Homo sapiens: one gene and its partner. The protein of the gene in region 2 interacts with the protein of the main gene of each other region in a pairwise test. Each region holds a gene or a part of one and is shown on either strand. Other genes may lie near its edges.

Evidence for each region.
Region 1: the proteins of WDR4 (region 2) and CDC42BPB interact in a two-hybrid assay, tested with the Homo sapiens proteins (one large-scale study listed by BioGRID and IntAct).

Annotation. Positions count from the first base shown.
Region 1 is NC_000014.9:102,963,550-102,967,049, forward strand, and holds part of CDC42BPB (serine/threonine-protein kinase MRCK beta), read right to left. Parts: coding exon 3,497-3,500; intron 2,839-3,496; coding exon 2,733-2,838; intron 1,102-2,732; coding exon 953-1,101; intron 1-952. UniProt on the Homo sapiens protein: Serine/threonine-protein kinase which is an important downstream effector of CDC42 and plays a role in the regulation of cytoskeleton reorganization and cell migration. Regulates actin cytoskeletal reorganization via phosphorylation of PPP1R12C and MYL9/MLC2.
Region 2 is NC_000021.9:42,848,726-42,852,132, forward strand, and holds the end of WDR4 (tRNA (guanine-N(7)-)-methyltransferase non-catalytic subunit WDR4), read right to left. Parts: intron 1,518-3,407; coding exon 1,324-1,517; 3' UTR 501-1,323; downstream 1-500. UniProt on the Homo sapiens protein: Non-catalytic component of the METTL1-WDR4 methyltransferase complex required for the formation of N(7)-methylguanine in a subset of RNA species, such as tRNAs, mRNAs and microRNAs (miRNAs).

The DNA of each region.
Region 1 (3,500 bases), on a different chromosome or scaffold from region 2:
CACGGGTAGCCTTGCAATTCCAGCAACTTCGTGCAGGGGACAGAGGAAGTCAGGCTGCCACGGGGAACACCTGGCCGGGAGGGATGCAGTTTGTGGGGGCTGGTCCACTCATCAGTGGGGTGACAGTGGGCAAATCACCTGCGGAGTGTGTGTAAGTGGGAGTAACAAGACTGCCTACCCTGTTGGGCTGTGGGAGGGTCACAGGATTTAACAACAGAACAGTCTTACAGCAATTCCCAGTATAAAGAAAGTCAATTTAACTGAAACCTATTACCATTAATTTTTTAGCCCCAAACTAACAGGATTTGGGACTTGGTAATTCTGTTAGAGACACTGTCCCTTCCAGGTCCTCGCCTGCCTCATGGCACAGCAGAGCTGGCCTGGTTTTTATGAAACTGACGTTCATTATCGTATCCTCGTAAAACCAGATCTGCAAAGAGGAGACTCTCAGCAAATACTGACTGAATCACTGCTGTGTGAAAATGGCGTTCTCGTTACTGCTTGGAGTTAGGGAAAAATTTCAAGTGAGAATGCCATCTTCAACCTCTGTTTTAAAATATTCACGTTAGCTTGAAAGGAACAATCTTGAATTAGTGAATGGAGCGGCACGGAGGTGACTAAGCAGTGAGAGGGGCTCCTGTCAGACAGCGGTGTGAGTCTCGCTACCCAGCGTGGGGGCACAAGCACCCGCTGCCGTCAAAACACGGCTCGCACCGCACCACACCCCCCCGCGGCAGGCAAGGCCCTGCACCCTCGCGGCCACCTCAGTGCCAGAACGGCCTGCTATTCGGGGCTCCTGCAGGTGAACCCGACGTGCTGCCTCCTAAGGCTCCAGCAAACGCCGTGGCCCCGATTTTCCAGGCGAGGAGCATCGGAGCCCGTGAGGCTCAGGGCGGGCTCGAGGCCACACAGCCACTGCTCCTACCTGGAGTCAGACCCTGGCACCAAGTACCTTTCCAAGGTGAGGTTGGCGTCCTTGACCTTCCTGAGCTCCTCCTGGACAAGCTGCTTGGCCCGGATCTCCGCCTCCAGGGCCGACTGCAGCTCCAGCCGCGCGGACATGTCCAGCTTCTGGCTGCGGCGCACCTTCCACAGCGGGTCCTTGAGACACGGTCATGGCGTTAAAAATGCATTTTCAGTTATCCGCTTGTTAAACTAATGTTAACAAATAAGTTATCTTTGTCTAACCTTAAGCCATTACGGTCTCATTTAGATATTAACTCTAAATTATGGAGGTGCCTCAGGAGTTTTAGTTTTGATATTTTATGACTTTTTTTACTCTTCCTCAGAAATCTTCTAAAAAATAACTAAATAATTTACTTTATCTTTTAGAAGAATAAAAGTGATTCTGTAGTGCAATTTCTTTTCTTTTCTTTTCTTTTTTTTTTTGTTTGAGATGTAGTTTCGCTCTTGTTGCCTAGGCTGGAGTGCAATGGCGTGATCTCAGCTTACCGCGACCTCCGCCTCTTGGGTTCAAGCGATTTTCCTGTCTCAGCCTCTCCAGTAGCCAGTAGCTGGGATTACAGGTGCCGCACCACCATGCCTGGCTAATTTTTGTATTTTTAGTAGAGACAGGGTTTCACCACGTTGGCCAGGCTAGTCTCCAACTCCTGCTCTCGTGATCCACCCCCCTTGGCCTCCCAAAGTGCTGGGATTACAGGCATGAGCCGCTGCGCCTGGCCTCTGTAATGCAATTTCTATATGGGTCCACTGGACCCTGGACCCTTTTACAAACCTAAGGTACATTATAGGGTTCGGTTATCTTTTTCTCATAACTTGAAACGTTTTGCTATTTCACCATCCTGGGAATTATGTCATTACTCATTCCTACCTGTGATTAAAAAAAAAAAAAAAAAAAAAAGACTAAAATAATAAGGGAAGAATGACAGAGTGACCTAGGATGAAGCAACAGTGGAATAAGCCAGTTCACTAACATCATCCTCCTGTTTTCTTACTGAGTTGCCCAATGTATGACATCAACTTTCGAGAGGTATCAAAGAAGTCCAGAGATGCCATCTTGCTGTTTTTTCTTTTTTAAAACAAACTGAAAACCTTTCATTGAACACAATTGAGAATGCTTCATTTTCCATCTATAACAGTAAAGAGAAGAAAATGGACAGAGGAAGGCCAGGTGTGGGGGCTCATGCCTGTAATCCCAGCACTTTGGGAGGCCGAAGCGGGCAGATCACCTGAGGTCAGGGGTTTGAGACCAGCCTGGCCAACATGGTGGAAACCCGTCTCTACTAAAATACAAAAATGAGCCAGGTGTAGCGGCACACGCCTGTAATCCCAGCTACTCGGGGGGGCTGAGGCAGGAGAATCACTTGAAGCCGGGAGGCGGAGGTTGCAGTAAGCCGAGATCACGCCACTGCACTCTAGCCTGGGCAACAGAGTGAGACTGTCGCGGGAGGAAAAAAATAAAATACACACATCACTAAATGAACCAATGAAATTAATAAAAGCAAGCTCTCTGAGGGCAGAATCCAGTCTTAACTTGACACCACGGAGCTCAGTGCTCAGTAATTATTTGCTAAACGAATGAATGCTGTCGAGAGAAGCCATGATGATCTGAGAGCTGGCAAATGTTGGCGTTCCTTAAATTGGGGAACTGGTTACACAGAAGTCTCTTGCATCACTGTAATTCCCTAAATAGTACTTATATGTCACATTTATACTTAAAACCATTAGCGAATTATTCAGTAATAGAAATGCAGGCATTACACAAAACCTACCAGTGTTCTTGACCCCAGACTAGAACTCCTCAAAGCCTCGAGCTCTTCGGTCATCTTGGAAGCAAGAGCTTGAAGGTAACCCCGGGCATCTTTCTCGTCACTGACCCTGGAGGAGGGAACAGATGTTCTATCTCACGAAGCATGGCTATCAGGGAGAAGCCAAACAAGAAGGGGACGTTCCCGCCTTCCTCGGCACACAGTGACACAGTGTCACGTCAGCTAGAGTGCCCGCAGTGTACCCGTTGTATACACGGGATCTCATTGATGGATGCGTCGTTACATTGCACATGACTGCAGTTTAAAAAGACACCAAACTTCCAAGACTCAAGAATGAAAAAATTCTATTACTCCATAAATATATATACCTACTACGCACCCACAAAAATTAAAAATAAAAACTCTTTTTTTAATTACAACTTCACACCTTAGGAGCGGAGGGCCAGGTCCCAGCTCGCTCCAAGTCTCCCTGCTGCTTCTGCAGCCGCTTTGGGAGGGCTCTGCCTCCCCTGTCTCTGAGAACGCAAGGGGTGTGAACGGTTTGCCCCAAGTCCTTCAGTGGGTTGGTGGGGGCGTATCTCCACCTCTATTCCAACAGAACCACTGCCCCAGACATGAGAAGTTCTGGGGAACAGCAGTGAGACCTGCACCCCAGCCTGAGAGGCACGGCCTGGCGTGGAGCACAGGATCAGGCAGAAGAGGCGGGGCAGACCCCATGGACTGAGCAGGGAGCGGATTCACGGCCGCTAATGGGGCCGCGCACGTACCACT
Region 2 (3,407 bases):
ATCACACGGCGCGCACCTCACACAGCACACGATCACGCGGCGCGCACCTCACACAGCACACGATCACGCGGCGCGCACCTCACACAGCACACGATCACGCGGCGCGCACCTCACTCACAGCACACGATCACACCGCGCACCTCACACACACAGCGCACGATCACGCGGCGCACACCTCACACAGCACACGATCACGCGGCGCGCACCTCACACAGCACACGATCACGCGGCGCGCACCTCACTCACAGCACACGATCACGCAGCGTGCACCTCACACACAGCGCACGATCACACCGCGCACCTCACACACACAGCGCACGATCACGCGGCGTGCACCACACACACAGCGCACGATCACACCACGCACCTCACACACACACACAGCGCACGATCACGCGGCGCGCACCTCACACAGCACACGATCACGCAGCGTGCACCTCACACACACACAGCGCACAATCACACCGCGCACCTCACACACACACAGCGCAGGCACCAAGGAGTTTTGCCTGGTATATTCGGTTGCTGCTAAACATTCCTAGGAAGTTGAGAAGGTTCATCCTTGCTGATCGGTGATTGAAATTCAGCAACATCCCTGTGGCTCTGCAGTGTGTGCCAAGGTCAAATCAAATCATAACGACGTCCTCAATCACCTCCCTGTAAACCGGGTGCCAGCCAGGCCCGTGCTCACACTTCCTGAAACAAGTTCACCATCTGTGCCACCGATGCCAGACAGAGCTCCCTGCGACTCCGAAACGTGTTTCTCACTTCCCACAAGGGAGCCACTCTCCAGGAGCAGCTCCTGAGCACAAGGGCTACGGCTGGGGCTGGGGCAGGCTCAAGCATTCGTGCTGAGTTTCAACAGCCTGTGTGGCGAGCAGCTACTGCGGGACAGCACGTCACCTGGATGCTGAGACGGCGGAACAACATGAAAACATCCACCATGCCAGAAACGTCAGCCCACAGATGCTCCTAGAGGAAGATGCAGCGGACACGAAGGGCGGTATGAGAACAGGAGAAACACAGACAGCTGCCGCCACCACCGGCTCACACGCAGCCTCCGACATGAAAAGAAAGTGCTTCAAGAGCTTCCACTCCACTGGTCTGGCTTCCCTTCAACCAGAAAGGGGGCACAGGCACCCAGCAAGAGCCTGTGCTGGTGACACAGAATGTTCTTTCTAGAGCCCAGGGGACAGCCCCATCCTCTGAGCTGGTCACAACTGATGTCACCTTTTCCTTCTTGAAGGGACATGCCAGGATGCAGGGGAACAAGTTAAAAAGCTTTTCCTAATTTGAGGTGAGAGACACCACTGACCGCCACGATCAGCAACTTAGCGTCGCCTCCCCCGGTCTCATCTTCTTGGCATGCCCGTCGGGCCCAGGCGGGGGACTCCGGCGCCGCTGCTTCTTCTCTAGCTGCTGCTGCAGTCTCTCCTCTTTCTTCTTCAGGTAGGAGGTCACGTTGTCGAACGTGGCCTTGTAGAGACTGCTGAAGCTGGCGTCTGCGCCGGCAGAGCCTGTGATGGGGGAACAAGGACAGGTGCCAGGTGGGGCAGGAACATGGGACTCGGCCACCACAGCGGGCCCCCTGCAGCAGGGAGTTACCTCGTGACTCCCAGAGTCCTCGGTGGACCGTGGGGGGCGCCTTCTGGGACGGCTCCCCACGGTGCCCACCTCCTGGGACCCACACCCTGGCTGGACCTGAGGACTGGCTACTAACAGAACGGGGCAAAGATGAAAGAATGTAATGGAAACCAGGGCACCAAGGCTGGGCCTCCACCCCGCCAGCACTCTCTGCTTGCACGCCCGGAGAAAGCCACTACTGCACCATGAGCCGCCCTGTGGAGGGGCCCAGGTGGCAGGGGACCAGGAGCAGCAGCCTCTGGCCAACAGCCAGAGAGGCCCCCTGTCCTGCCGACAACCCAGACTGAGTGAAGTCGGGCCCTGCCTGGTGAAGCTGAGATGGCCACCTGCAGAGACACAGCTCAGCTGAGTCCGGACCCCTGACCCACAGCAACAGTGAGACAGTAAGGGTGGGGTGCCTTAAGGCATCGAGTGTGGGATAGCATGTTCTGCCGCCACAGGGAATGGACACGGATTTCATCTACTTTATCTAAGTGCCAAGGATTGGGGGCAATGACTGACCACAGGCACACGGAGACAGCCTCAGCCTGGCCAGGAAACCACAGGCCCAGCCGGTAACCCGCGCACCAGCGACTGCCTGAAGCCTGCCCATCCAGCAGGTGGCGCAGCCTCCCCGCCCCTCCAGCGACTCTGCTGCTTGTGGGACACTCTAGCAGCAGCCCTCCCCGGTCCCTCTCCCAACGCAGGCCCCCAAGTCTGCGCCGGGAACAGGCTGCTCTATCTATGGAACATCTCAGGAGAGCGAGCCCAGGCTTTGGCCTGAGACTGTTGTGCAAGGTGACACTCAACAGGTCTATGCTGTCCGTGGCCTAGAGCACGGGGGCCATGAGCACTGCAGATGCCCGGCCATGAGCACTGCCGCCTGCAGTCCCTGACACAGCCAGTGACAGGCCCACTCTGAAGTGTTCCTAAAGCAGATCCCAACCACGCTGGGGGGCCCAACCCTGCCCGTCTCAACCCTCAACATCCTAAGCAAAGCAGGAGGGAGAGAAGCCTCAGAGGCAGAGCCAGCGTGCCGCCACTCGGGGAGCCTGGCAGAAGGCGGCTGGGCCCCAATCAGCGGAAACTCCTCCGACCTCAGTGTGAATCCCTCCAGAGCTCCAAGGAACCTCAGTGCTCACTGCAGTGGGGTTTAGCTTTGCAAGACTTCAGAGCAGCAACTTCTTGTCGTGAATGAGGCACCTGGATTCCATGCTGGGCTAATCCATCCTGCAGACACCATCACCTCCAAGACTGCAAGGTGCTGGCACAACGACGCACCCAGAACTACAGTGTGTCGTGTCCCCAGAAGGCAGGGTAGAAAATGTTCGTCCAGCTCCTCCCTCAGCCTGGCTGCTCTCCTTCCTGCAGCCGCAGCCACGGGAGTTGCTGGCTAGATTCCCTCCCCTCAGCTGAGTGTTCCTGTCAGGACAGTGACCATCCTGCCCCTGCTCAGCCTCCTGAAGACCCCCGGGGCCTCTGGCTAGACCCCCACTAAACCTCCCAGTGAGGCCCTGCACTTACTGACGCCCACTGCAGTGGGATCAATTCCCTCAACACCATGGACCAGGCATGAGGCAGCACAGCACCAGCTCCCTCTGGGAGCCACCAGCTGCCAGCCCTGCCCTGGGGACCTTCAACGCCCAACTCTGAAGGCAGGTGCTCAGACCCTGAGCCCCCGGTTCCTAAGTGGCTCTCGTTAGCCTGACTCCCATGGGGGGCTCCTTCTTCTGCTGTGCGTCACCCACCTCCTGCCCTGCCCCGCCTTCTGGATGGGGACACAC